Homo sapiens: one gene and its partners. The protein of the gene in region 4 interacts with the protein of the main gene of each other region in a biochemical or structural test. Each region holds a gene or a part of one and is shown on either strand. Other genes may lie near its edges.

Region 1 (7,055 bases), on a different chromosome or scaffold from region 4:
CAAAAACAAACGCAGACACACCCTGCTCAACCGAGATCCTCTGCCATCAGCTCTGAAGACAGTGACGTGAGCGTGTCCCAGCAGCTCAGGCCTTGGCCACAGGTGACCCACTACGCAGCCTGCACGAGCCCACAATCCCCCCCGACATGTGGCTTCCTCCAGCCACAGGCACTGACGAGGGTGCGGCCACCCCAAAAAGAAAGGCCCCAGCCCACAGGGAGCGCCATCGGGCCCACCCCAACCAACTCCCCGTGTGACACGAAGGGCCCCAGCCTGCTACGTCTGTCTGCAGCTCTGCCACGAGCATCCTTCCCCAGCCCACAGGTCTGCAGGCGGCTGCCACCTGAGCCCTGGCCTGGCAGGGTCAGAAGCGCGCACACACAAACACACACATGCACACACACATGCACCCTCCGCAGCCCCCTCCGAGCAGAGGCGACAGTCCCTCGCTTCCATCCACAGCCCCTCCTCCCCACGATCTGACACTCTGCTGGAGGGGCGCCCAGAGAAAACCGGGCTGGAGCATCTATTCACAGATTTAGAAAAAAAAAGTTTGATGCAATAGCTGAATTAATTAGGCCTCCCAAGAATAGCTGAGCCAATGCAGCATTCTGTGTGTGCAATTTAATAAGCCTGGATATTTAAAAGAAAAGTTACAAATACTTGGGGAGGTACGCAACGGAAAGTTCCTGAGGACCCCACTGAGTAATTTCGGCACCTCGTGGCCTGGGAGCTGCCCATGCCGGATCCCATAGATCCTCCAACTGGCAAACAACAAAGCCAGGCCAGCAGCCTCCCTCTCCGGCGCACCCCTCTGCGTTTCAGAGGGAGAGAAGGAAATGGGTGAGTCCAAAGCAAATCGCAGGCCGCCAGTAACTCCAGCACGCGGGCCCAGGAGCCTGCTGACCAGGCCCCTCAGCCGGGTGCCAAATGGCCCTCACCCCACACGGCGGACTCTGGGATTTGGTCCCTGGCAGGCCCAGGGAGACCAACCAGCACAGTGCTGGAGCCGCCAAGTCTCGGGCCCCTGCCACTGAAGCCTGGACACCTGGCTTCATTTTGTGTCTGTGTCCCAAAACTTCAAGGCACCAAACAGGGAGCGGGAGCCAGTAACAAAACCAGGCCTCGCCTCACCCAAGCTCTGTCTCCTGGGGCCCAAAGGCAGGCAGCCCTCCGTCTTCGAGGCTGGGTGCCTTCGGGGCGAGGACAGCCACCTTCACCCCAACCCCAAGAAAGACCTGGGCCTGAGGCATCCGGGCCGTGGCCCAGCTGGACCTAACTTCCCTGACCTGGGGCAGGCCGCTTTCTCGGGAGCATGAGGCCTGTGCCTTCCTATCTGGGCAATGCCTGTGGGCCTGCGGGCCTTCCCCACACACCAGGCCTGGCCCCCCACCCCACCGCCACAGCCCGCACTCCAGGCTCGTCCTGGGGAACGGGCAGGAGGGCCTTCCTACCAAACTCTCTGGCCCTGCCAGTCGGAACACTCTGAATTTCCCTAAAACAAAGCGAAGACTGGAGACATGGGGCACGGCAGAAGCACAGGTCCCAGCCTTCGGAGACCAGAGCCTGTAGTCCAGAAGGGGCCCCCACCCCAAGCGCATCCTCCCCAGCTCCCAGGCCTGGGGCCACTCACCCGGGGCACCCGCCGCTTGTACTTGTTGCCATAGTCGAATTTCTCCTTCACGTCGTCCAGGCAGCGGCCGAGGCGCGCCTGCTCCTCCTTGCCCGTGTAATCCTGGCTCAGCAGGATGTAGGCCCGCCAGTTGGCCGAGTCGAAGCCCCAGTGGCAGGTCCGGTTCTCCAGGGCCTTGTGCGAGTGCACCACGAACTTGTGCGGCGGGTACATGAGGCGGCAGTCCAGGCACTGGATGCAGGCGGCGCTCGGGCTGCTGTAGAGCTCGGGCACCAGCAGCCCCTTACACTTGCCGAAGCACTCGTGGTACACGCGGACGCTGCGCTCGCTGAGCTCCAGGCCCAGCGCCAGGCTGGCGGCCAGCTCCTTCTTGCAGGGCGGCGGGTAGGCGCCGCCGTAGAGCAGCGCGTTGCACAGGCGCTCGGCGTCCGTCTTGGTGATGAGCCCGCACGAGGGCGCCGAGAAGGGCAGGATGCCCATGACTTTGAGGATCTCCAGCTGGTCGGCCGTGCAGCGCGAGCAGTAGATGTGGAGCTCGTCGCACACCGCGTTGATCTGCTGCAGCGAGAAGTCGCGCAGCACCGAGTTGAGAATCTGCGGCAGACACAGGCGCTTCTCGCCTCCCACCACGAAGCACGAGATGGTCTCGCCTTCCAGTACGGTCTCGCAGCGCTCGGTGGAGCGGTCGGACGGCATGAAGAAGGGCCCGGGCAGCACGGGCGGCGGCGGCTGGATGGCGGGCAGGTGCAGCACGGGCGGCGGCTCGGTGGCTGCGGGCACCGGCGCCGGCACCGCGGCCGCGCCCGCCTCCTTGGCGCTCTCCTTCTTGTAGGCCTCCTGCGCCCAGCGCGCCGAGAAAGCGGCCGGGCCGCCCAGCGAGCTCATGGAGCTCAGGTGGAACTGCTCCAGCGTCTTCTGCAGCCCCGGGTGCGGCTGGAAACAGCCGCGGCCGCCTGCCGCCGCCTCCATGGTGCGCTCCGGCTCCCCCGGCCGCTCCCGCTCCCGCGCGCCCGGGCCCCCCCGGCCCCCGCCGCCGCCCCGCGCGCCCCGGCGGCGCCCGCGGCCCCGACCCCGGCCGCCCCCCGCCGCCGGCTCACGGCCGATCACGGCCGCGGCCTCGCCCGGGGGCGCGAAGGGGAAGGCGGGCGGGGCGAAGGGGTCCCGCCGCTGGAGCCCGCCGCCGCCCGGGCCCGGCGCCACATCCACGCGCCCCGCGCCGCGCCCGCCGCCGCCCGGGCCCCCCGCGCGTCCCCCGCGCGCCCCCCGGGCTCTAGGCGCGGGGCATGCCCCGGCGCGCGCCGCCAACGCCAACGCCAACGCTCGCGGGCCCGGGGCTCGCGGGGGGCGCGCGGGCAGGTGCCGGCGCCGCGAGGCGCGAATCGCCGCGGCGGCCGAGGCCGAGGGGCCCGGGAGGAGCGGGGGCGCGGGCGCGGGGCCCGCCGGGCCGTCCTCGCGCGGCGCGCCGCCGCCGCCCCGCTCCTCCCACCGCGAGGCGCCCGCCCGGCTCGTCCCGGCGGCGCTGGCCGGCCGCGTCGCGCCCGCCGCCGGCCCCCGGCCCGCCCGCCCGCCGGCTCCGCGGCCCGCCCGCCCGGCTTCCGGGGCGGCGGAGGCGCCTCTCGCCCGCGGCCCTCAGAGCGCGGCGGCGGCGCGGGGCTCGGGGCGCTCGGCGCACATCCTCCCGGCGGCTCGCTCCGGCTCGGACTGAGCGCCCGGCGCTGAGCTCACGCCGCCGCCGCGCCGCCCCGCCCCGCGCCGCCCGCTCCGCCCCGCGCCGGCCCCGCCCCCCGCGCTGTTTGTTGCCGTGCGTCCGCCTCAGCCCTAGCGCTGGCCAAGAATGTGACCCGCTCCCCAGCCGGGCTCTTCCAGGAACGCGCGCTCCCCGCCCGGACTCGGCCGCGCTCGGCTCCGCTCGCCCGGGACTCGGCCACGCTCGGACCCGCCCTGCCATGACTCGGCTCCGCTCGGCCGGGACTCGGCTACGCTCGGCCATGCTCGACTCCGCTCGGCCCCGCTCGGCCCCGCCCGCCGAGGGCCGCTGGGCGCGGGCGGAGGCGGAGGCGGCGGTGGCGCCCGGGGCCCCCCTTCCGGCCGAGGCCGCTTCCTGCGCCGCTGGGAAGGCGCCCGTCTCGCCGCCGTCGGGGCCCAGAAACCCACAGGCCCCCGCCACGACCGCAAACCAGCTGGGGGCGGCCGGGGGGCCACGCCACGCACCCGGGGTTCTCCCAGGGTGGGACACCACACAGCGGGGAGGCCCCGGACGCCTCTGGGGTCCCACACACTACCGGGACGCCACACGGTGACCTGGGGTCCCACACACGAGGGGGACAGCGGCCACGCCCAGGGACCCTGCGCCGAGACGGGCACCGCGTCGCGTGACCCTGGCGGCGCAGCCCGGCGGCCCCCGCTGCGCCGTGGCCGGTGGCTCGGTGGCCGAGTGTCCGCGGCTCCCGGCCGCGCCGGCCCCGCCCCGCCCGCCGGCCCCTGGCGGAGTGTCCCTGCTGCGCGGGCCGGGGGCTTCGGGCCTGGGAGGGGCGGCGCCCGGTGCCCCAGACGCAGCCGGTCTGCCAGCCACTCCTGCCAGGTGGCTTATCAGGACTTCGGCCCCGCGGGGCCCGGCGTTCGGGCCGGCGAGACCCCTGACCTCCGCCCCGGGGCCGTGGAGCGCTGAGACGTCTTTCGGGGTCGGATCGGCCGGCCCTCCACGCCTGGCCACGCAGTGGGAGAGACTCAAGCCTTGGCAGGGCGGGGAGCGGGAAGCCCGGGGCCCCGAAGTTGGACAGTCGGCCGGGTGGTCTCCAGGGGAGGCAGCTTCCAGCGAGGCCTGCGGGCGCAGGGACGCAATGGTGTGTTTGGGGAGGGGCAGGGCTCGGTCTGTGCTCGCCTGAGGCGGAGGGACATGCCCCACGGGCCGGGGGTGCCCAAGCTGGCCTGGGTGCTGGGCGGAGGCGAGAGGGCCACGCCGCTGCAACCTGAGTGACCTTCAGCTGGGACCTCCTGCCCCTCACTTCCCCAGTGGAGGCTGGAACCTGCCTCAAACCAGCACTCCTGGGCGCAGTTCCTATCCTGGGGGAGCCGGCCCGGAGTCCCTGTGCAGGTCTTGGCCGGACCTGCGGCAGGGCAGGTGTCTAGAGAGGCAGCCAGGACCTACCTGTAGGTGACCCCAGGGCGGCTCCATACTCCCTCTCTCCGCTGCCTTGGGGGTTGTCTCCTTGTCCTCACACTCCACACTGTCCCCCGACTCTTCCCATTCACTCCGTTGGCCCCCACAATTGGAGGCCAGGCTTTCTCTGTGTGTTCACACACCAGAAAGCTGGGTAAGAAGATCATTTCCTTAAAAGTGATATTTAACCCGGCAAGGTGGCTCACGCCTGTAATCCCAGCACTTTGGGAAGATAAGGCAGGCGCATCGCTTGAGCCCAGGAGTTCAAGACTAGCCTGGGCGATATAGTGAGACCCTGTCTACAAAAAATAATTTTTTTTTTTAATTAGCCGGGCATGGTGGCCTGCACCTGTGGTCTCAGCTACTTGAGAAGCTGAGGTGGGAAGATTGCTTGAGCCCAGAAGGTTGGGGCTGCGGGGAGCCGTGCTTGAGCCTCTGCACTCCATCCTGGGTGATAGGGACACACCCTTTTTTTGAGACAGACCCTGTCTCAAAAAAAAAAAAAGGGTCAGCCTCAGTGGCTCATGCCTGTAATCCCAGCACTTTGGGAGGCCGAGGCAGGCGGATCACGAGGTCAGGAGATCGAGACCATCCTGGCTAACGGTGAAACCCCGTCTCCACTAAAAATGCAAAAAATTAGCTGGGCGTGGTGGTGGGCGCCTGTAGTCCCAGCTACTCAGGAGGCTGAGGCAGGAGAATGGCGTGAACCTGGGAGGCGGAGCTTGCAGTGAGCCGAGACTGCGCCACTGCACCCCAGCCTGGGCGACAGAGCGAGACTCCGTCTAAAAAAAAAAAAAGGATATTCAGTCCAGACGCAGGGGCTCACGCCTGTAATCCCACCACTTTGAGAGGCTGAGGCGGGTGGATTATTTGAGATCAGGAGTTGGAGACCAGCCTGGCCAACATGGTGAAACCCCCTCTCTACTAAATATACAAAAATCAGCCGGGCATGGTGGCACATGCCTGTAATCCCAGCTACTCGGGAGGCTGAGGCAGGAGAATCGCTTGAACCTGGCAGGTGGAGATTGCAGTGAGCTGAGACTGCACCACTGCACTCCAGCCTGGGCGATGGAGTGAGACTCTGTCTCAAAAAAAAAAAAAAAAAAAATAGAAAAGGGACTTATTTGTTTTCCTGGAGATAGTTTCGTTGGCCCACGTTTTGGACAAAACACAGCTAGTGTTGCACTTGACGTTGTCACTTCCTTCCATCTGGATTTGAATTCCATACAACTCAGTCAAATTGTAACTCAGAGAAGGTGGTTGCAGCCAGGCCTGCTGGGAAGTGTCTCCAATCAAGCAGAGAATTCCTCTGGCTCCTCTGGTGGACCAGGGGCTCTGTGCAGGGCCCCTAGCATGGGCAGTGCCCACCCAGAGCCTCTGCTTCCTTCTGTGCCTCTGGCTTTGCAGGGTCCTAGCCAGGGACCAACACTTTGTCCAGAGTGCGGACCCCTGGGAAGTAGCCATAGGTGTGCCATGGAGTGAAGGTGCGGGGACAGGTGAGGGCCTCCAGTTGGTCTCTGAAGCTACCTCCACCTTTGTGGACTCTTGAGACTTCCTTCCCCCAATATGTCAGAGCTTCCAGAGGAAGGCACCCACCCCACCAAGGGTCAGAGCAGCCACGCCTAGAGGGAGCCACCAGGGTCCACTTTTCTTCCTGAGCTTGGCAGGGAAGAGGGTGGGGGGTGTCTCCCGCCTGCTGGCCTTCCACCCTCCAGCCCCGCCCAGCAGCTGCCCAGGCCAGTCGCCCACGCGGGCCACCATACTGGCAGGCCGCGGGTTAAGGCTGCAGGCACAGCCACAGCGCGGAGTAGGGTGGGATGGACGTGGTGCCTGCCCAGAGAAGCCCTGGCATGCGGGCAAAGGCAGGGACCTCCCAGCTTTCTCCCTGGCCCCTACCACGGTGACAGGCTTGGTCAGCTAGTCATGAGTTTGTCCCCTTGTTCGATGAGCTCCTACCACTGTAGACACTGGGATCAGGGTAAGGAGACCAGGTTGTACCCCGTGTGGTTCCATTCTGGTGTGAGAGACAACAGTCAATCAACAAACCTGCTAGTACGGGAGCGAGATCTTTCAGATCCCCAAAAGGCGCGGAGTGGCTGGGGCTGGCTGTAGGCAGGGAGGGCCTCCTGGGAGGCTGGCCTTGGAGTTGAGACCCCCACCTTAAGGAGCCAGCAGTGTGGAGATGAGTTGGATGGCGCCCCAGGACCAGAAAGAGGAAGACACTGGCAAAGCAAGGGGTACCCCAAGCTTTGGGGGAACTTG
Region 2 (7,097 bases), on a different chromosome or scaffold from region 4:
TTTGAAAAAGTCATTTTTCTCTCTACATGTACAAATTATTTTAATACTTGAAGTTTTACGCTCAGACTTACAGAATAGAAAATTTTCTGGAGCACAAAAGTTGACTTGAGGGGAAGAAAGGCAGTTTTTTTTTTTTTTTAAACATTTTTTAAAAGAATGAACATCTTTGCACCCAGAGAAAAAAAACTGGTATTTTAATATATATTTATATATATTTATATATATATAGAATGTAATTTTAAAGTAACATTAACCCCTTTTGTCCTCTGGTTTAGAAATGTTTTAACTCTTCCATAAAGTGAGGAAAATAGGGAAAAATGTCAACCATCTGCACCAGTAAATAATAACTATTAATATTACATATGTTCATTAATTTAAAAAAAATAATAAAACCTATTGGAGGTGCAAGGCAGGAGCATATTGTTTGGCTTCACAGGCCTCAGCCTCCTCCCAGTGCACACTTGAACCACACACACAAAGGGGAAGAAAGGCTGGTGGTAACCAGCCATAACAAAAATATATTCTTTGTATTCTATCATCCCTCAGGTTCATCTTGCATGTTTGCTTTAAACCACAAACGGCTACTGCACAGTTCTTATGTGTTCCAAGGAAAATTGTCTTTTAGGCTACGAAAGATTCAAAAAAATTGTTTTCAGTACAAAAAGTCTTGTTAAGAGAAAATAATTTTTTTGCTCCCAAAATACTACAAGGTGTCTCTAGTGTATGTCTAGTGTACTCTGTGAGAGGTTTGAATTCAAGTCTGAGTTATCGGTGCTGAGTCCCAGGTCCGTGGCGCTTGCACCATGGAGGTTTGCCATGCCTGGATTGCTAGCAAGCTGAGAAAGCATTGAATTCTGGTCCGGGCTGGCAAAATGCCCTTGTTCCATGGGGTTGGCCTGGGCAGCTACCAGTCCAGGATGTGGGGAACTTGTCTGTGGGGAAACGTGGTGTGGAGAAGGCTGAGGCTGCATCCTTGGGGAAGGACTGGAGTGGGGGGGCTGGGACTGTGGCCGTGGAGAAGGGACAGGCTGGGGAGAGCGCACTTGATTGGAGAGAGAATTAGGGATCTGCTGGCCTTGTAGGTGTGGGGACTGGGCCTGATTTGGGAGCATATGCTGCTGGGGGCTCATGGGGTTGGGCTGAACAGGGGACCCCATCTGTTGCTGAAGGAGTCGCTGCTGATAGGCCTGTAGACTGGCACCTGCCTCTGCTCCCAAGGCCTGGGGAAGCTGGCCTATCTGTCCCATATTTCCTTGTTGCATCTGTTGCATGTGATGCTGCATCCGCTGCTGCTGCTGTGGTGGGTAGCCAACTCCTTGGGGTTGCTGGAACTGGTTATGGTTGGCCATTCCAGGGCCTATTCCTGGCCCTGCTCCCTGTTGCTGCTGCTGTTGCATCATTTGCTGTCGTCTCAAGATGTCTCGGAATTGTGAAGGCATGGTGTTGTGGTTCATGTTCATCTGCTGAGCCTGGGGGCTCATCCCTCCCATGGGTGGCTGGAGTTGCTGCTGTGGTTGCTGCTGGGGCAGGCCAGCCCTCTGAACGCCCGCCTGCATTGGATTCATGTTCTGCATGGCTGGATTGGAGTGGACCCCCTGCTGACCTGGCATGGTAGGTGGCTGTAGCCCTGGCTGCCCCTGGGGCATGCCAGGCTGCCCAGGGATGGGTTGTGGATTAGAGTTGGCATACTTGGCAGCCCGCTGCTTGATGAATGCAGCCAACAGCTGGGGGTTGGCGTGAAGGATACTAAGCACCTGTTGCTGCTGCAGGGGAGAGCTGGGAGACCTGAGAGTCCGCAAAAGGTTTTGTAAGGCTTGTTGAGACACAGTGCCTGGTTTGAGTGGGCTGATACCTACCTGGCCCAATCCTGGTTGTGGAGCCATGTTCAAAGGTTGACCATGCTGGGCCACTGACATCATGGCTGGCCTTGGCATCCCAGACTGTAGTTGCTGGGGCTGAGGCAATCCTCCTTGGCTCCAGGGTGGCTGTTGCTGCATCCCTGTCGGTCCCATCCCTGGCTCCAAATGCCCACTGGGACCTCTGGTCATGGGAGGTGGGTTCATACCCATGGGGGCCATGGGAGTCATCGGGGGCATCTGGTGTTGGATTGGCCTTTGAAAAATTTGCACGTGGGCCATCTGGCGCTGCGTCTCCGCTGCTCTCTGAATCTGCATTGCCATTTCCACTGCTGCAGGTGGGGGCCCTGGAAGGGGTGGCTGAGCAGTCTGAGGAGGGGTTGGAGGGGTCACCTGGCCTGCTGCCTTACCCTGGGACACAGGGCCAGCAGCTTGAGTCCTGGGCAAGTAGGGTGGCATGCTATTGGGAGGGGTAGGCTGAGGCTGAGAAGTGGGCTGGGGCGTCTGCGGGGTGGTTGGCTGTTGGCCAGTTGGTGTCGTTGGAGTGGCAGGAGTGGGGGAAGGGAGGCCCTGTTGCTGCCCAACCACACCAGTCCGCTGCATGCTGGCCATCCTCCTGCGAAGCATTTGGGCCTGCTGTAGTCGGTGCTGCAGCTGTTGCTGCCGGAGCTTCTGCTTGATGTTTAGGCAGAACGGCACCGGGCATTTGTTCTCCTGGCAGTGCTTGGCATGGTAGCAGCAGAGGGCAATGAGCTGCTTGCAGATGGGGCACCCGCCATTGGTTTTCCGTTTGCAACCCTTGGTATGCTGCACAACCCGCTTCATCTTCTGGCAGGATGGCAGTGAGCAATTGGCATTCCGACACTGGCAAGCATGGACCAGAGACTGGATGCAGCGCTGGATACTCAGGCGGCGAGAATCGCCTGGGCTCTGGGTGGCTGCAGCCTGCTGGTTGTTGCTCTCATCATCTAAGCCAAGGCCTAGTTTCTCCATTTTGTGGTCATGGTTTTTAGTGTTATAGCAGGTGATACACAAGTCATAATCCTAGGGAAAAAACAGGAGGTGCACGTAAACTCTCCAAGATTTAAGTCATTCAAAAGTATTTTAGATATTGTTTGGGCTAGAAAAGCCCCTTTCGTAGAACAAAAACTAGCCTCTTCAGCTCTGCCCCTCAAACACGAGGCCAAGCCCCTAGCATCCCACAGGCCTCTATAAAATACGTGGCTGCATGGCCCCTCAGAACAACCCTGCGGAGCTCACCTCCTCCTTCCCACAACCCGGTGCCTACCTCACAGACAGTACAGTGCCAGCGTGTCTCCACATGGTGCTTGCATTCATTGCAGGTGTAGACAAAGCGGTCCTGGCTCTGCGTGTGCAGCTCCACCAGCATGCACATGGTGGACCACTGGGCTCTTCGGAGTGAAGAGAACTCCAGGTGCTTGTCCCTTGCCAGCGTGAGAAACGCATCCCGACCATCCATCAGATCGCAGGGGATGAGAGGATCAGGATCAACAATGGGAGGCAGGGAGTTGGCAGCAGGGCCAGCAATGAGGCGGATCACAAAGAAGACCTGAAAAACAGACAGTCTCTTTTTTTTGAGACAGGGCCTCGCTCTGTCATCCAGGCTGGAATGCAGTGGCGTGATCTTGGCTCACTACAACCTCTGCCTCCTGGGCTCAAGCAATTATCCCACCATGGCCTCCTGAATAGCTGAGACCACAGGCCCACACCACCACACCTGGCTAATTTCTGCATTTTTTGTAGAGACGAGGCTTCGCCATGTTGCCCAGGCTGGTCTCAAACTCCTAAGCTCAAGTGATCTGCCTGCCTCAGCCTCCCAGAGTGCTGGGATTACAGGTGTGAGCAGGTACAGCAGGCTGAGCACCAATGAGACTGGCGAATGCTGAGTTAGTTTCACCACCATACGCCTCCTGTTCCTTTTCCTGCTTTACCTCTTTGGTCTCTTGAGACTGACTATAAATAGAACTGAAATGCACATCCTGTGATTTTTTTCTCCTTCATTCAGTAACTCCTTCAGAGTAACAATGGTCTGGGTGAGGTATAGCACCATGCACAGTGGACATTTTGCCTCAAGGCAGTCTACTTTAAGATGCAATCCATGGTTTAACCTCAATCTAATTACAACAAACCAGACAAATCCAAATATGGAGACAGTATGAAAAACAACTGGCCTGGACTCATGAAGGTCCCCTATGCAACTTTCCTGTGTAACTTTTCCTACAGGTTTGGAAGGGAATGGAATGGATAAAAAATCTTAGTCTTTGTTGACAAAGCAATAAAATTCTTGTTCATTGAAGTTTGAAAAAACTTGTAACAACCATCAATTCTCATAACCATTAGTGTAAAAGGTATAAAAAGCTGGTATTACATATGTATTTGACATTAATTAGTATATAACTATAAACACCTATTAAAGTAATAAAATGTAAAACATCCCCTTAAGAAATTAGGAACTTGTGAGAAACTGCTGTACTGATAACAGATTATTCAACATCTGTGCACACTGGCAGCCACACTCACAGTCTCTGGCCAGCAATGTTCGCTGCTTCTGTCACCCTACAACCAGGCCAATACTTGGATTTACAACCTAAATTTAAACAGCCATGGAATGTGTCCACAATTTAAGTCAAACCTATTACAATATATTCTAAGGGCTTTTCCCAACTGCCTAGGATTCTGTGGCATTACTTACTGCTTGAAATAGCTAGTAACTATTAATTGTTAATAATCATTACCTAACGTATTAGAACTCAGGAATCCTTCCATTTCACTAGCATGGCTGAGATAATGGTTATTACCATTATTACATCGTAGCCCATTATTCTAGGCTAACAAAAAAGGGGTGGTGATGGGGGGAGCAGTGGGGGAAAAGATACTTTGAACACCTATGTATATAGGTGTTCACCATGATAACATCATTATAACAAATTCCTCTCTAAAAAAGATTTTGTTAACTATTTCTCTCCCAAAGAGACTGTTTAACCAATTTTTAGGTACGGAATTACAACCTGAAATCAAGCCTTCATTTCCCTCTCAACTTAATTACCACTTCCTATAAGAACTTGATTATATGTCTGAGAACCGAGATAGTAAAATGAGGAGTCTGACTGAACAATCGAGATTACTACCATTGGACAAACCCTGAGAGGAATTACTCTTCAATTCTCCTGGCTTTCGTTATCAATTATATGATATTAAAGAGAGAAAAAAAAAACCTTACCCAGTTATTTTCCCAAATGACTGCAAGAACAACTAAACAATGTAAATGATGAAATAACTCAAAAAGTTTTGAGAAGGGGGTTGTAAGTCCATATGTGGAAGTTTAACTTTTCTCCAATTCTATTTACTAATTCACTTTCAGAAAGGTTAAATCTTTTTATTTTTTGAAACAGAGTCTCGTTCTGTCACCCAGGCTGTAAGTGCACTGCAACCTCTGCCTCCCAGGTTCAAGTGATCCTCCCACCCCAGCATCCCAAGGATTACAGGTGTGTGCCACCACGCCAGGCTAATTTTTGTATTTTTAGTAGAGACGGGGTTTCGGTTCGCCATGTTGGCCAGGCTGGTCTCCAACTCCTGACCTCAAGTGATCCGCCTGCCTCAACCTCCAAAGTGCTGGGATTACAGGCATGAGCCACCACGCCCAGCGAACAGTCAGTGTTTTTATTCATTTCTTATTTCTTTTTCTGAGGTGGAGTTTCGCTCTTGTTGCCCAGGCTGGAGTGCAATGGAGTGACCTCGGCTCACTGCAATCTCCGCTTCTCAGGTTCAAGCAATTCTCCTGCCTCAGCCTCCTGAGTAGCTGGGATTACAGGCATGTGCCACCATGCCCAGCTAATTTTGTATTTTTAGTAGAGCAAGGTTTCACCGTGTTGGTCAGGCTGGTCTTGAACTCCTGACCTCAGGTGATCCACCCGCCTTGGCCTCCCAAAGTGCTGGGATTACAGGTGTGAGCCACCATGCCTGGCCAGAAATCTTGCCGTTTTTCCCCAACTCTGGGTGGCTGCATCTTACCTCTTTATGCTTCTCCATGGTGGCATATAGTTTCTGTGAGAGGTCGTTAGATACATTGGGCATCCCGGGTTTCTTCTTGTTGCCCCTACTCAGGCTGCTCTTATTTTTGCTGGTTTTCTTATTATTCTTCTTTTTAGCATTTTTGCTGTCTCCCTTGGTCACCTGCAGAGTAGCACAAAGGAGACAAGAAAATAAGGTTTTTGTTAAGTAATTTGGGAATAGCACAGAATATCTCCCTTCTTTGAAACTAGATATCATAATCTTATGCCTGTAACTTATTTTACTAGCTGTTCTCTTCACTTATTCTTTCTCCTTAAAGTTGTTATTTGACCTAATTTTCTCCCAGTGATCTTTAAGGCAATGGCAGCCCTTTAGCTTTTTGCCTAGAAGAGGCCACAGAATGTGCAGACCCTGTAGATTGATTGAATGTATCCCAGATTGGGGCTAGGGAACAAGGAAGGGGTGGCACTTTGGGGTAGTGAAGAGTGTATCAAAGTGGGGAGCCAGAAGACCTTGGTTTTATTTCCTTCCACTCATATTCTAAAATGTTATGAGCCTACAAATACTAAATGACAAGGCTGTAAGAGTTTGTTAACAGACTATTTAAGGGTGCCTTTTGTTAAGTTAAATTCAATGGAGGTAATTCGAGATATGCTATGGGGAAATAACTGGTGAGGTTACTAAGCCAGGCTTAGTAACTTAAATTCTGGCTCAGGCCTATTTTGTATAGCTAAGAATGGTTTTTTACATTTAAAAAGAGTGTGTTTTTAAAAGACAGAAAATATGCCAGAGATATGTGACCCACAAGGCCTATAATATTCATAACCTAGTCCTTCAGATAAGTAATCTTCTATCAGTTTTTCAGGATTTCCTTCAGTTTCTTTTATCATTTCACATTACTCAAAGTCTGAGATGCCATTTTAAAAGGGGCTCTGATGCTTTAAAAGTTTAATACCACTGAAACAGAACCCTAATAACCTCTCTAAGCCAATATTTCTTGTCCAACTTAAAGAGCTCTTTTACACCTGAAAGCTTTAAAACCCAATTGAAAGTTTAAGTGCACTTCTGGATTAAATATTAGAATCATGATAGAAGTTTCAAAGGAAACTCAATGCCCTTACATCTGTGCTTTCATTGCTGGTGTTTTCCTCTCGTTTTCTCTCTTCTTCCTCCTGTTCCAGTTCCTTAATGCTTTCTTCCAGAACATTG
Region 3 (7,707 bases), on a different chromosome or scaffold from region 4:
ACCTAGAAAACGCAGGCTGGTGAAAGAATGGGTTGGGCTGGTACTGAGGGCCTCTGCCCATCAAGAGGGGAGAGGAGGGCTGAGGAATTGGGAGGGGAATCAGATAGACAAGTCATACATACCTTGAGCGAAGGGGTAAGGGTTGGCTTTTGAGCTCGTAGAAGCTGTCAGGATCAAGGACGTTTTCTAATTCTATGTCAGCAACAATCCCGGATTCCGGAAGCAAAGAGTTCAGGCTGAGGGGGAGGTGGAGTGGTGGTCAGTGATTGAATGAAGGACCTTATTCCCCAGCCCTCCCCTGAGACAGAGAAAGAGAGAGAGAGGGGGGGAGAACGAAGAGGAGGGTACAAGCCCCTCATATTTGGCCACCTTGCTGGGTACCACACCACCATGAATTCCCACCTCCTTCCCCCATCCCCCTTTCCCTTCCCCACTGTGTTACTCATAGTCCCTTAGGAGTCAGAATAATAAGAACGCCTGCATCCCAACCCCCACACTGTAACAACCTGGGTTTGAGGAAAACAGAATTTAGGAATAACAATTCACTTTATAGAAGGATTCCTGACTTCCTATTCAGAGTTCTCCCAGCCCCCATACCCCCTACTTTTTTTTTTTTTTTGAGACAGAGTATCGCTCTGTCACCAGGCTGGAGTACAGTGGTGCGATCTCAGCTCACTGCAAGCTCTGCCTCCTGGGTTCAAGTGATTCTCACGCCTCAGCCTCCCGAGTAGCTGGGATTACAGGCACACGCCACCACGTCCGGCTAATTTTTGTATTTTTAGTAGAGACGGGGTTTCACCGTATTAGCCAGGATGGTCTCGATCTCCTGACCTCAAGATCCGCTTGCCTCGGCCTCCCAAAGTGCTGGGATTACAGGTGTGAGCCACTGCGCCCGGCCAACCCCCTGCTATTTTCTTTACAGCTGAATGTGAGCCCAGGTATATGTGTGTACACACACACACACACAGAGCAAGTAGGGGCATCCCTCAGCATAACAGTCCCTTGTAACACAAACTGAATGCATCACAAAGAGAACTGGAAATAATTCACTTGACGTAAAGATCTACCATTTCACAAATGAGTTTCTCCCAGCCCCAGCCAGAGTTCATGGGATGCCAACACATGCCTAAATATAAAATAGAAATATCAAAGGCTCCCCTCGCTCCAACAGACTGGATTTACAAGAGGGAGAATTTGGGTGGTTGATCCACTTTATACAAGCATTCTTTTCTTACCGGAGGAGCCTGCCCAGCCTTCTCCTGTTTTTTTGGATAGATCAAAACACACACACACCCCCAACACTAACACCCACTGGCGCACAAAATAAGAAGCCATATACACCCATCCCTTTAACTATGTCCACTACTGCGATGATCTAGGTTGTTACAGAGGAATTAGAAGATGGTGAATCGATATACAGAAAGGCTCTGCTCAGCCCCAGAGAGCAAGGGACAGTTAACACACACGTGGATGAATATGCATCCTTCAATTTAGCTAAACATTTAGAATGCTGAGAGATTGCTGGTGACTTCACTTGACAAGAATCCTCTCCCCTCCCCAAGGATCTGTCTTCCTTCCTCTCCTCACCCTCAGATGGAGCCCTAAAACCACCCAGGAAGTTGGGAAGAGGAAGCTCGGGCGAGCCACTGAGCTCAGCACAATCCCAGGCACAAAGGAGGCAAAGACCCCCCCCCACCCAGGGCTCACACACCCATTGCACAGAAGTTGGAAGAGATGGGCACTGGGGTGAGCAGGGAGGGCTGGGGCTCCAAAGCCCATTGATGAAAGTAAGGATGAGAAGAGGCCAGAGGGGATCCACCCAGGCAGGGATGGTGCAATCTGTACTCGTTCCAGCTCTATGGACAGATTCAAGATTACCCCCAGGAGCTCGGAGATCGAAAAGAAGATAAAAAGAAAAGGGGTGTGGGGCTAGGGAGTGGGAAGGGCTGAGAGGCTAGAGCGAGTAGCAGCATGAACAAGAGCCTCCTCTGGGTTCCCAAACAAGGTCTGAGGCCTCTGAGCTAAGAGGTAACATCATCGCCCTCTGCCTGGCTGTCTATCTTCCATTCAGGCCCTTAACAGGTGTGGGAAGAGGGCTTTTCCACTATCCTTGGGATCTGCCCCAGCTGGGTAGGCGGGCAGAGGGGAAAGGATTATTCTGGTCAAGTCTTGCTGAATGTTGCTTCTCTTGTTCATTCACACGCACTCACAAGGCTGGTCCCAGGCAGCATATCTGAGATACCTCCAAATCCCTCCAGATTCATGTTATCCCCAAACACAGCAACCAGTCACTGAGAGGCACCAAGCTCCCAAGACAGCACTTCTGTCCCTCAGGACCCCTTCTCCCACACTGAGGGAAAAAAGATTCTAGGATTCCCTTAAAACCAGTGCCTCACCTGACAGTGTCCCCTCAAATTCATTCCCCTCATGTCCGACTGAAAATCCCCGAATTCAGCCTCTAATCAGAGACCCTGTCTACCAAGTTCAGCTATCTCAGACCAGTTTCTGGATACTCCAGAATAGGCCCCTCTAGACGCAGTCAAGGGCTCCCCAAACCTGACCCAGACCCCGCTTAATGCACTCCCACGACTCCTTTAATAAAGCCACAATCCAAGCAGGCCACTGCCGGATTCCTTAGGTGCCCCCCCAAGACGGGCGCCCCGACGTCCTCCAAGGCTAGGCCGAGGGCCTCCAATCCCAGTCCGGGGCCCCCACTGCCCCCGAGATCAGGCCCCTGGGAGCCCCAGTCGGCACTCCCAGCCCCAGGCGGCCCCGCACCTGAGCAGCTGAGCCGAGTCGGCCGGCCTGCGCTCCTCCAACAGCACGAACACGGCTCGAGGGCCCTCCGCGCTGGCCTCTACGCCATCCCGAGCTGGTTCGGCCGCATGAGACATGACGCCCGGCCCCGGGCGAGCCCTGCCAGGCCGGTCGGGCCTCGGCCCGGTCCCCCTAACAAAATAAGAGTCCCCCCTCCCCCCAGCTCGCCACCGCCGCCTCCTCCGCTAAGCCATGGAGCTAGCACTGCGCGGGCGGGCGGCGTCGGGGAGATGGGATGGGCTGTGAGTCATCCCCCGCCCAGAACGGACCGACGCCCCCCCTCAACCTAACCCCGGACGACCGCCCTCCTCCCCCTCGTCTTCTTCCCCCTCCTCCCTCCTCCCAGGGATGGGGAAACTCCACAGGAAGTGACCGCACTGGGGATGGATGGCCCGTCTGGCCACGACCCATTAGCGAGGCGGCCAATCGCTGAACGGCGATTCGAGGGCCCACCCTAAGCGACGCCTCCGACGCGGAGGAAAAACGCGATTCGGCCCGCCCTCATTCCGAGAAGCAGCACCCAGACCACGCCCTCAGGGGCAGCGACAAATAGGCGAGGGTTGATTTGGTTGAACCACGCCTCTATGTTTGCGTCGCTTTCGGAGCCACGCCCTCTCTTCTCAAATTATCCCTCTGCAAGGTAATATTAAGCCGCTCCTTGGGTCCTCTGCGCCTGCGCATCGATGGCCAGTCGGCGCACGGAGGGTCTCCTGGCCAAGCTTTTAGCTGCGGAACCGCGCCCTCTTTCGGCCAATATTTGTAATATCTGAGCCCTAGACCGCGCTCCAACCTCGATCTGGCTGTGCTCTCTCAGCCAAAGCCATAACTATGAGGCAGAGGCAGCTACATTCCCTGAAGGTGCGGGCCAGAAACCCCCCCCTTTCGCTGTCCGCAGTCCAGCCGCCCAGCTGGTCTTCCGGGAGTATTCCGCCTGTTCCATGCCATCGAGAGCGGTTGTACTATGTTCATTGCGCTGCGCAATATGTGCTTAATAAATTCTTGACGGGTGAATGAATCTGGTCCCTTCGGTGAATGACGACTTCTGGAATCACAAAGATCCAGGTTTGAATAGGGAAGGGGACCTCCCCTCTCCCAGCCTCAGCTTTCCTGGCCTGTTAAATGGGGGTCAAAATACCTGTCTGGCAGGGTTGTTCTGAGGATTAAAGATAATGTATGAAAAGTGCTAGCAGGTTGTTTGGCATACAAGAAGCTTCCCAAAATTAGTTGATTCACTCATTTGTTCACTTATTCAACATTCACTGAGCGCTTCTGTATGCCAGACGCATGCAAGCCGGCTCGCACAAGGCGGAGGGTCTCACTCATATATCCTCAGGTGCAAATAGCTCACAAAACACCCAGACCTACAGCCTTCCCTTCCTCTTTCCTGACATCCCAAGACCCCACCCTGAGTTGCGCCTCCAGGAATTTCACCGGGCTTTCATTTACCTTGGACCTTCCTGTATTGGCATCATTATTTCACAGGTCTGTCAGTTGCTTTCGTAAACTCATCCATACTCACACACAACCATCTCGTACAAGGGGGAAACCTCTACATAATAAAGATGACTTCTGGCCGGGCGCGGTGGCTCATGCCTGTAATCCCAGCACTTTGGGAGGCCGAGGCGGGTGGATCACCTGAGGTCAGGAGTTTGAGACCAGCCTGGCCAACACGGTGAAACCCCGTCTCTACTAAAAATACAAAAAATTAGCCGGGCGTGGTGGCGGGCGCCTGTAATCCCAACTACTCGGGAGGCTGAGGCAGGAGAATCCCTTGAACCGGGAAGCAGAGGTTGCAGTGAACCAAGATAGTGTCACTGCACTGCAGCCTGGGTGACAGAGTGAGACTCAGTCTCAAAAAAAAAAAAAAAAGAAAAAAGAATACATTACCAATTGTACCAATCAAAACTCTAAAACGGAACTTGTAGATCCAATGTTAAAATTCCTATGATGCCTTAAACATGTAAGAATGGGCCGGGCACGGTGGCTCACACCTGTAATCCAGCAGTTTGGGAGGCCAAGGTTGGTGGGTCGCTTGAGGCCAGAAGTTCGATACCAGCCTGGCCAACATGGCAAAACCTCGTCTCTACAAAAATACAAAAATTAGCCGGGCGTGGTGGTCTGCGCCTGGCCTGTAGTCCCAGCTACTCGGGAGGCTGAGGCAGGAGAATAGCTTGAACCCGACAGGCGGAGGTTGCAGTGAGCCGAGATCACGCCACTGCACTCCAGCCTGGGGCGACAGAGTGAGACTCTGTCTCAAAAACAAAAACAATGGCCCAGTGCGGTGGCTCACGCCTGTAATCCCAGCACTTTGAGAGGCCGAGGCAGGTGGATCACTTGAGGTCAGAAGTTCAAGACCAGCCTGGCCAACGTGGCAAAACCCTGTCTCTACTAAAAATACAAAAAAATTAGCCAGGCATGGTGGCGTGCGCCTGTAATCCCAGCTACTAGGGAGGCTGAGGCACAAGAATCGCTTGAACCCGGGAGGTGGAGGTTGCAGTGAGCCAAGATCGTGCCACTGCACTCCAGCTTGGGAGACAGAGCTAGACTCCGTCTCAAAAAAAACAAAAACAAACATGTAAGAATGGCTAATTTTACAAAAGAAGAAAGAGGAGGGTCTGGCGGGGTGGTTCCCACCTGTAATCCCAACACTTTGGGAGGCCAAGGTGGGAGAATTGCTTGAGCCCGGGAGTTTGAGACTAGTCTGGGAAACATAGGGAGACCCCGTCTGTACAAAAAAACTTTTAAAAAATTAGGCCGGGCATGGTGGCTCACGCCTGTAATCCCAGCACTTTGGGAGGCTGAGGCGGGAGGATCACAAAGTCAAGGGATTGAGGCCATCCTGGCCAACATGGTGAAACCCCGTCTCTACTAAAAATACAAAAATTAGCTGGGCATGGTGGCACGCGCCTGGCCTGTAGTCCCAGCTACTTGGGAGGCCGAGGCAGGAGAATCTCTTGAACCCAGGAGGCGGAGGTTGCAGTGAGCCGAGATTGCACCACTGCACTCCAGCCTGGGGACAAAGTGAGACTCTGTCTCAGAAAAAAAGAAAAAAAAAGAAAAGAAAAGAAAAGAAAAATTAGCCAGGTATGGTGGTGCACACCTGTGGTCCCAACTACTTGGGAGGCTGAGGCAGGAGGATCGCTTGAGCCTGGAAAGTTTGAAGTTGCAGTGAGCCGTGTTTGTACCACTACCCTCCAGCCTGGACGACAGAATGAGACTCTGTATCAATTAATCAATAAATAAAACTACATACTGTCTGATGAAAGATGCTACAAAGTTAAAAGACTTACAACAGACTGGCAACAAATATTTATAGCAGTAGAGCCACAGAGTAATTATCTTGTCACACATCCCAATCCTACAAACACCAGCTTCACACACGCATCTCAAATGTCTCCATGACAAGTGATATCCCATGACACCCTGCATGATATGCCTACCCTGCATCTTTCTGGGTTTCTCTCTCTCTTTTCTTTTTCTTTTTTTTTTGAGACAGAGTCTCGCTCTTGCCCAGGCTGGAGTGCAGTGGCACGATCTCGGCTCACTGCAAGCTCCGCCTCCCGGGTTCACGCCATTCTCCTGCCTCAGCCTCCCCAGTAGCTGGGACTACAGGCACCCGCTACTATGCCCGGCTAATTTTTTTGTATGTTTAGTAGAGACGGGGTTTCACCATGTTAGCCAGGATGGTCTCGATCTCCTGACCTCGTGATCCGCCTGCCTCGGCCTCCCAAAGTGCTGGGATTACAGGCGTGAGCCACTGCACCCGGACTTCTTTTTTCTTTTTCTCTCTCTCTTTTTTTTTTTTTTTTGAGATGGAATCTCGCTCTGTCACCCAGGCTGAGGTGCAGTGGCACTATCTCGGCTCACTGCAGCCTCTGCCTCCTGGGTTCAGGCGATTCTCCTGCCTCAGCCTCCCAAGTAACTGGGATTACAGGTGCCCGCCACCGCGGCCAGCTAATTTTTTTTGTATTTTTAGTAGAGACAGGGTTTCCCCATGTTGGCCAGGCTGGTTTCAAACTCCTGACCTCAAGTGATCCGCCCGCCTCGGCCTCCCATAGCGCTGGGATTAAAGGCATGAGCCACATGCCCGGCCCTAGTTTCTATCAATATCTCATTCTCAACTTTCTCAATACTTGCACCCCTGCCATATAGTTGGAGTTCCTTTCTTTCTTTCTTTCTTTTTTTTTGGAGACAGGGTTTCGCTCTGTCATCCAGGCTGGAGTGCAGTGGTGCGATCTCGGCTCACTGCAACCTTATCTGGGGTTTCACTGCAAGACAACTTCAAGGTGCTGTGAAGGGGACATGTGGAGCGAAGTGGGAGGGCAGCTGGATGGTGAAGTTGGGGGTATTTAGGGATAGATATGAGTGGTGATTGAAGGTGGCTTGGGGGTGAGTTTGGGTTCTACAACAGGACAGTTTGCAGGCAATTGAAGGATCATTTGAAGGTCTTTGGGAGGAATGGGGCTTCAATAAGACAGTTTAAGAATGCAGGTGGGAGCTATTGGGAGGGTGGATTGGGAATACGGTTAATGGGTGGAGGATGGTTTGGGGTACAGTTGGAGGGAATATAGGAAGATGGGTTTTTAGAGATAGAGTTCGGCCTTCTGTAAGGTGGTTTAAGGAACAGATGTTAACTGTCATAAGATGTTGTGGTAGGCTGAATAATCCCCTCCACCCCTGCCAATATATTTATGTCCTATGTCCTAATCCCTGGAATTTTTTTTTAATTAATTAATTTTTTTTAGACAAAGTCTCACTCTGTCACCCAGGCTGGAGTGCAGTGGTGTGATCTTGGTTCACTGCAACCTCCGGCTCCTGGGTTCAAGCCATTCTCCTCCCTCAGACTCTCGAGTAGCTGGGACTACAGGCAGGCACCCGCCACCACGCCCG
Region 4 (7,427 bases):
AGGCTGCTACGGACATGGGTGTGGAAATACTCGTAGTCCCTGCTTTCAATTCTTTTGGGTATATCCCCAGAAACAGAATGACCGGATCATATGGTAATTCTGCTCAGTTTTTTGAGGAACTGCCATACATACACCACAGCATTTTCCTCAGAGGCAGCACTACTTCACATCTTCACCAGCAATGTGCAAGGATTCTAATTTCTTCACATCCTTTCCAACATGTTATTTTCTGTTTTTTAAAAGCGAATAGCTGGCCAGGCGCGGTGGCTCACGCCTGTAATCCCAGCACTTTGGGATGCCAAGGTGGGAGGAATCAGCTGAGATCAGGAGTTTGAGACCAGCCTGACCAACATGGATAAATCCCGTCTCTACTAAAAATACAAAATTAGCCAGGCGTGGGTGGCACATGCCTGTAATCTCAGCTACTCAGGCGGTTGAGGCAGGAGAATTGCTTGAACCCGGGAGGCGGAGGTTGCAGTGAGCCAAGATGGCACCATTGCACTCCAGCCTGGGCAACAAGAGCGAAACTCCATCTCAAAAACAAAGAAAAAAAGATAATAGCCATCCTAATGGATGTGAAGTGGTTCAATGTATATCTTTTTATTTGTATAACTTCTTTCAAAATGTATATAATTATTTTGTGTATATGTAATTTGTTTTACATAGTAGCATTATGCTATTCCTTTCCCTCTGTGTCTTACTATTTTCTGTTGGAACTGTGTTTAAAATCTATACATTTGTTTTATGTACATGGAATTCATTGCTTCTCACTTTTGCATAGCACTTTATAGTATGCATGAATCACATCCATGTATATTGAGAACCTACTATGTGCTTGTACCAAGCTTTCTATATGATTTAATCTGATTCCATACAGCAATCCTAAGAAGGTGTTGTAATTATCACATTTTATGGATGAGAAAACTGACACACACAGAGTTAAGGAACGTGCCCAGAGTCACACAGCCGGAAGTGGAAGAGGTAGAAGTTTAACCCAGGTCATTCTGGTGCCACAGAAGAGCTCACACGTGTAAGGTGTTACAAAGAGCTATAGGTAGAGATCTGACTGTAGACAGAGGCTCTCTCTTAGGTGAGGGCACTCTGATAAAAGTTCTAGTCCTGATTTGGCTACTTATCTTCACAGTGCAAATCACCTTCCCTTACAGACATCACTTTCTGTCTGTGTAAGATGAAGATGATTTTAATGCTTTTTCTAGATTCACTACTTGTTGATTAAATACCCTTAAGCTAATGGGAAAATAATCAGAATTGAAGTCAGGTGTTTGTTTCTTTCGTGTATTTGGAGTGGCTGGCCTACCTGGGAGCCACTCCAAATACACGAAAACCCTCTGATGTGTCTATTCACGAGGTGAACTGTTCATAGGATGGACTATTCCCAGGGAAACAGTTGCTGTCTCCACTTCCATCCCACCTCTCCTGAACTTTGCACTTACCATGGTGAAAAATTAACTGGGCTAATGTTTCCCTCCCAAGGACAACCTCTGCAAAAGCAGGTATGGCTGGGCCCCAAAAGACCAGGTGCCAGAACAGAGTTGTACCCATCCAGAGCAGCCCACCCATTCACTGCCCAAAGTCAAGATCAAGAGAACATGCAGGGTCTTCTCAGCACTGGAAGAATCAGTTCCTCAGCCCTCCTCAGAGCTTTCTGAAACTGGACTTAGTCCCCCAGTGGAGGGACTTCTCTTGGAGAAACAGGCCTGAGGAGAAAGAACTAGCCCAGAAATGGCACTTATTAGACTTGTAGGTGGGTCCAGCACTATTTTTCTGCATGCACAGCTGTTCTTGTCACACGGATGCCAGCAGGGAAGCATGGTTCTGCCACACTAACTAGCTGGCTGCCTAGTTATTTCCTCCCCTCAGGAAAATGAGAGGGCTGAATGAGGGCCCCTTCCCATACCATGATTTTACAGGGTGAAGTACCTGTCAGGTCCTTCTACTACATGTAATCCTCAAATCTCTCTGACGCTCTTCCTCTACAGTGCAAATCACTCTCCTTCAGCAGACATTGCTCTCTCTGTAACATAAAGGACTTGAACTACAGGAGGACAGTTACAATGCTCTTTCTGGATCCACCACTCTGCACAGTGAGAACCGCTTGCTCCATTCTTACAGCGGAGAGAACGGACGCTGCCCAAGGGGAAGAAGAGAAAGAGCCGGGATTGGAAGCCAGGCCAGTCACTGATGGATCCTGAGCCCCTCTTACTTTCTTTGGCTACCTCTCAATGGTTGGACTTGTTCAGGTTAAGATTAACACTTTACTGGACGATGATGACTGCAAGGCCCCTGCCCATCTTTGCCCACTCAGTCACATCATCCTCATCCCCACCCTTTGATGCTTCTCTAGGCTGTGAACGCCTTGAAAACCTTAGTCTTTTATTTTGGAAGTTCAGGAACTGAATAGGAGGGCTGCAACTCAGAGCTGCTCCGTCAATGTGTGTTAAACTTATTTGACCTCCCTCCACCACTTTTCATGGCATTAGCAATGCAAACCTTTTCACATGAGCTTCCCACAGCCACCCTAGGAGATCGCGAGGGAAGCTACCTCTAGCCCCATTTTACAGGTGAGCAAATAATCCTTGCAGTGTTACAACAGTGTGCCCGTGTAGAGAACTGTTTTGCAAAGAGCTCGATCAATGATGTCATCTTTGCCTTCCGTGACCCAGGCAGCTGGGTGCAGTCTCAAGATCGGAGACTGAGGCTTCAACAAAGTATTGGGTTCAAATTCCAGCTCTGCCACTTGGAACCCTGAGTAAGTAATGTAATCTCTCTGTGCCTCCGTAAACGTGAGGCACAGGAACATCTACCTCACCAACCACTGTTAAGACTGAATCAAAGGGCAGCAGGCGGACTACCCGGAATGAAGAAAGCAATCAATAAATGTGGATTGTGTCATCCTTGTCTCTCTTGACGGACGGGAAGAGGAGAGTGAAACCTAAGACCACAGCGGCAGCGCGTTAACAGGAGGACCAGCAAGGAACGGAAGCCAGGTTGTCAAGCCTCAGTTGGCTTTCACGTATTCTCCTTTTCAGGCGGGTATTTAGGAAGAGAGGAGGGTGAGGAGCACAGCGCACTTCTGCAGCAGCAGCTGCGGATTGGCTTGTGGGAGGCGGTTCTCCGGAGCAAGGCAAGGGCCCCTGCCGCTTCTGGGCTGACTGTGGATTCCGCCACACCTCACAGGGCTTTGTAACTCCCCACCCACTTGAGGGTTCCAGATAACTTTTTTTTTTTAACAAAGCAGGGGTGGGGGTGGGAGATTCCTGCTGTTAAAAACAAACAAAGGGCTTAGACACCGGCTAGTCGGCTGCGGGAGGCAGCAAGAGAAAGGCCGAGGGGCCTGGAGTAGCTCCTGAAAACCGCCGAGGGCCCTGCGGGCAGACGCCCCTGAATTCTTTTGGTGGGGAGAAAAGCCGCGGAGCTCCCCAATGTGCCAATTGGTTTGTTGTTGTTTTGCTTTTTTTGAATACACAAACTCTCCGAAAACTCCTGTCTTGCCCCACTTTTTTGTGAGTTCATTGCTTTGGAAACAAAACTCTCTTCCATTTATTGGCAATTATCAAATTTCCGATCCTTCTCTATCAGGAGATCCAGCAACAAACACCCTGTTATGTAAATTTCTTTCAAAGATAAATTCGAAAGCCCCTCCATTCATTCCTTCAAGAACTCAACAGATGTCCTTGAGGCTCATTTTCTGCCGGGCACTCGGTTCACAAGGCTCAAGAGACCCCTGGCTCCAGCCATTGTCCAGGTTGTCACTGGTGTCCCCAGCTCTCCACTTCTGAGGACCCACTTCTCACCCCCTCCTCCTCCGCACACGTTCCCGAGGCTCTCGGCCGGTGTGATCTCACCGACTAGAGAATAAAAACAGCCCAGGGGCGCCGGCGCCGGCCAAGGGCCTTGACGGGGATCAGCAAGCGCGAGGCCAAGTGCGGGCCCCAACTTCCTGGGCCCGGGCCTTCCGCGCGCCCCCTCTCGGGCTCGGGTCCTCTCCAGGGTGCACTCGCGTCCGGACGACGCTTACTTGCTGCGAGTCCAACCCTCTCCGGCCCGCAACTCCAACCGAGCCGCCCGAGTGTGGACTCCGAGAGCGGACGCCACGGGCCGCGCTCAGCCCTCCCGCCCGAGGCCCCTCTCGCCGTGTTTCCCAGGACTTCCTCCCCGCGCCCGCCCGACTTCAGGTCGGGGCCGCGCAGGGTCCCGCGCGCTCCAGCCAGGACTGCCGCCGCCCGGGTCGCCCACGTGGGCGTGCTGGGCGCGGGGTGGTGGCCGGCCGGGCGCCCTCCCCGGAGCAGGGGGCGGGCAGGGCGCCCGCGGGAGGAGGTGGCGGGGCGCGGGGGAGGAGGCGGGGAGCCCCGGCGGCGAGGGGGCGGTGACAGCACTTGGAAAGGAGGCTGCACGCGGATTTGCATGAAACACAGACTGGGAGCGGGCGGGAGCGGGAGCGCGGCGCACGCCCCGGGCCGGCCCAGCCAGCGAGCGAGCGAGCGGCGAGCCGGGAGGAGGAGGGTGGCGGGGCGGTGAGGCCGCAGAGGCGGAGGGATCTGCGCATCAAAGCTAGCGAGGCGAGCGAAGTTTGGCCGGGGGTTGGACTTTCCTTCCCGGAGGCGGCACCCAAACAGCTACCCCGTGCGGAAACCCAAACTTCTGCTGCCACTTGGAGTCTCGCGGCCGCCGCCTCCGCCCCGCGTTCGGGGCCTTCCCGACCCTGCACTGCTGCCGTCCGCCCGCCCGGCCGCTCTTCTCTTCGCCGTGGGAGCCGCTCCGGGCGCAGGGCCGCGCGCCGAGCCCCGCAGGCTGCAGCGCCGCGGCCCGGCCCGGCGCCCCGGCAACTTCGCCGAGAGTTGAGGCGAAGTTTGGGCGACCGCGGCAGGCCCCGGCCGAGCTCCCCTCTGCGCCCCCGGCGTCCCGTCGAGCCCAGCCCCGCCGGGGGCGCTCCTCGCCGCCCGCGCGCCCTCCCCAGCCATGTCGTCCATCCTGCCTTTCACTCCCCCGATCGTGAAGCGCCTGCTGGGCTGGAAGAAGGGCGAGCAGAACGGGCAGGAGGAGAAATGGTGCGAGAAGGCGGTCAAGAGCCTGGTCAAGAAACTCAAGAAGACGGGGCAGCTGGACGAGCTGGAGAAGGCCATCACCACGCAGAACGTCAACACCAAGTGCATCACCATCCCCAGGTGGGGGCCCGCCCGGGGGGGACCCGGGGTCACGCCGGCCCAGCCCCCTGGCACTGCGGGGCCGACCCAGTGGGGCTGGAGATGGGAAGAGGGAGAGAGAGGGAGGGAGTGAGACTGTGTGGGTGCGTGTGTGTGAGAGTGGGAGAGCGCGGGCAGGAAGGGGGTGGGGGGACCCCAAACAAAACCATCTCTGATTTGCAAAGATCAGAGCCCGAGGCTTCCACGCGGCACTCTGGCTTCCACACCTCACATTCCCTTTCCACCTCCGGGAGGGGAGAGCGGGTTGCTGCGGGACTCGGCCGCCCCCACTCCGGGGAGCTGGGGCTGGAAGTTGAGGCCCGCTTTGTTCGGCTCCGCGGGCCGGAGCCCCTCCTCCGCCGCCGCCTCCCGCCCCCGCGGCCCGCGCTCGTGGAGGTGGTGGTGTCTTTGCGTTTCTTTTCTTCAGTCGGGTCTCCCCACTTTCCTCTACAGGAATGCGGTCCGTACAGCTGGGGCTGTGGGTGAGGAGCGGGAGCCTAGTGATTGACAGATTCCTTCTTCGTTCTTTCTTTGCCTTCGGGATTAGCATTTTTATCGAGTATTTTTAGACTCGGTTGTGCCAGTCTCCCGCCCCCTGAGCATGCACGCACTTTGGTTGCAGTGCAATGCTCTGACTTCCAAATGGGAGAGACAAGTGGCGGAAAATAGGGTCTTCTCCCACCTCCCACCCCCCCATCCCGACTCTTTTGCCCTTCTTTTGGTCCAAGAGATTTTGAAACCGTGCAGAACGAGGGAGAGGGGCAGGCTGCAGCCGGGCAGATAACAAAACACACCCCAAAGTGGGCCTCGCATCGGCCCTCGCATTCCTGTAGAGCCTTCCTTCCCAAAGCGCGCTGCCATCTGTCTGGATCTCCTTTATCCTTCCCGTTGCGCGCTAGCTAGGTCGGGCGGGAGCCCACAGATGGCTGATAGAAGGGGTCAGTGACTTCACTCCCCCAGGGCCTTCCTTAGCTTAGATGTGCCTGGCTGGGAACTGGGGGTGCGGGTACCTTGGCTTCCTGTCTCTACCTCTCAGCCTCCTTTGATGCTGAACCAAGGGAGAGAGCGTGTGTGTTGGGGGCTGGCTCTTTTGGGGGTCCCAGGCTGCCGAGGAATGAGTAGAAAGCACCAGGGACTGTCAGCCGCAAAGGGATTGTCATCCCTGCTCCTGGGCCAGGGTGGACTCCATCCTTGGCCACCTGCTTGGGGCAGTTGTACAGGGGCTGCCAGGCGAGTCAGGCAGGCACAAAGCAACATCTGTCCACGGGAACCGAGGGCAGGCCTCCCCTGGAAATAAATGCCACATATGGTGGGAGTGCGGACTTAAATTTTTTTTAACTGGGTGGATCCAGTCAATAAAGGGGGAGGGAAGGCGGTGTGCTGTCTGGGGAAGTCTCTGGGCGTGTGATCGGGAGCCAGAATTGACTTCAGAGGAGGTGGTGTGATGTGATGGTCAGAGAGACCTGGGATTTGGTTCCAGCTCTGGTTGTTAATTCTTCTGTATTCCTTCCGTGGGGGTGGCTAGGGTAGAGTGGGTGAGTATGCTACTTCTCTTTCTGGGGAGGGGTCTGCCAAACCTACCTTCTCCTTATCTGCCTGGGTGCATTGAAGACAAGTGCTTTATGTATTGAAACAGAAGAAAAAAAGTGGTATCAATTGTAAAACAGGCAGCTGTGAAAAGTGTTTCACAGTTTACAAAGCACTTTCACATGGTTTTCTGAGGTCCTCAAAAAAAGACAGAAAGCAAGCAAGCAACCAGCCATGGAAAGTAGATAAGGTTGTTAGGCTTAAGATTATCACATTTTTAAAGCAGAGGAAACCTTAAAAGAGAGAGGTGAAAAGGCTTGAGTCATAGACATGGGGTTCTGCCTGAATGTGCTCTTTCTGCTGCCCCATGCTGCTTTATACTTTGAAGATCCTGAATACATTCTTTGCTGAATGCTAAAGCTGTGTTAGCTTGGGGAGGGCCCTGTGGATCTTTGTATGTGCGGTTGCTTCTTTAATCTTTGGGCTGGTGATAGCTTGGCAGAGAGGCCTTGCTTTCCCTTGCCTTGGTAGGAGTTTGTCCTCTGTGGGGCCATACCTTTGGCCTGCCTTTTCCTCTTCCAAAGTCCTGCTGAGACTTTGGAAGCCTAAGACGTGTGAACGCTTTGGATGATTCTGAGAGTTCAAGCCAACCTGCCCTGTGGCCTTCTCGTGACTTTGTTAGGACTGAGGCATCTT

Evidence for each region.
Region 1: the proteins of SMAD3 (region 4) and SKI form a complex in vitro, tested with the Homo sapiens proteins (8 studies listed by BioGRID and IntAct).
Region 2: the proteins of SMAD3 (region 4) and EP300 form a complex in vitro, tested with the Homo sapiens proteins (5 studies listed by BioGRID).
Region 3: the proteins of SMAD3 (region 4) and TFE3 form a complex in vitro, tested with the Homo sapiens proteins (2 studies listed by BioGRID).

Annotation. Positions count from the first base shown.
Region 1 is NC_000001.11:2,224,314-2,231,368, reverse strand, and holds the start of SKI (ski oncogene), read right to left. Parts: upstream 3,051-7,055; 5' UTR 2,603-3,050; coding exon 1,634-2,602; intron 1-1,633. UniProt on the Homo sapiens protein: May play a role in terminal differentiation of skeletal muscle cells but not in the determination of cells to the myogenic lineage. Functions as a repressor of TGF-beta signaling.
Region 2 is NC_000022.11:41,172,576-41,179,672, reverse strand, and holds part of EP300 (histone acetyltransferase p300), read right to left. Parts: coding exon 7,010-7,097; intron 6,051-7,009; coding exon 5,889-6,050; intron 3,427-5,888; coding exon 3,145-3,426; intron 2,901-3,144; coding exon 717-2,900; 3' UTR 1-716. UniProt on the Homo sapiens protein: Functions as a histone acetyltransferase and regulates transcription via chromatin remodeling. Acetylates all four core histones in nucleosomes. Histone acetylation gives an epigenetic tag for transcriptional activation.
Region 3 is NC_000023.11:49,040,333-49,048,039, forward strand, and holds the start of TFE3 (transcription factor E3), read right to left. Parts: upstream 3,026-7,707; 5' UTR 2,895-3,025; coding exon 2,779-2,894; intron 237-2,778; coding exon 123-236; intron 1-122. UniProt on the Homo sapiens protein: Transcription factor that acts as a master regulator of lysosomal biogenesis and immune response.
Region 4 is NC_000015.10:67,061,175-67,068,601, forward strand, and holds the start of SMAD3 (mothers against decapentaplegic homolog 3), read left to right. Parts: upstream 1-4,427; 5' UTR 4,428-4,980; coding exon 4,981-5,186; intron 5,187-7,427. UniProt on the Homo sapiens protein: Receptor-regulated SMAD (R-SMAD) that is an intracellular signal transducer and transcriptional modulator activated by TGF-beta (transforming growth factor) and activin type 1 receptor kinases.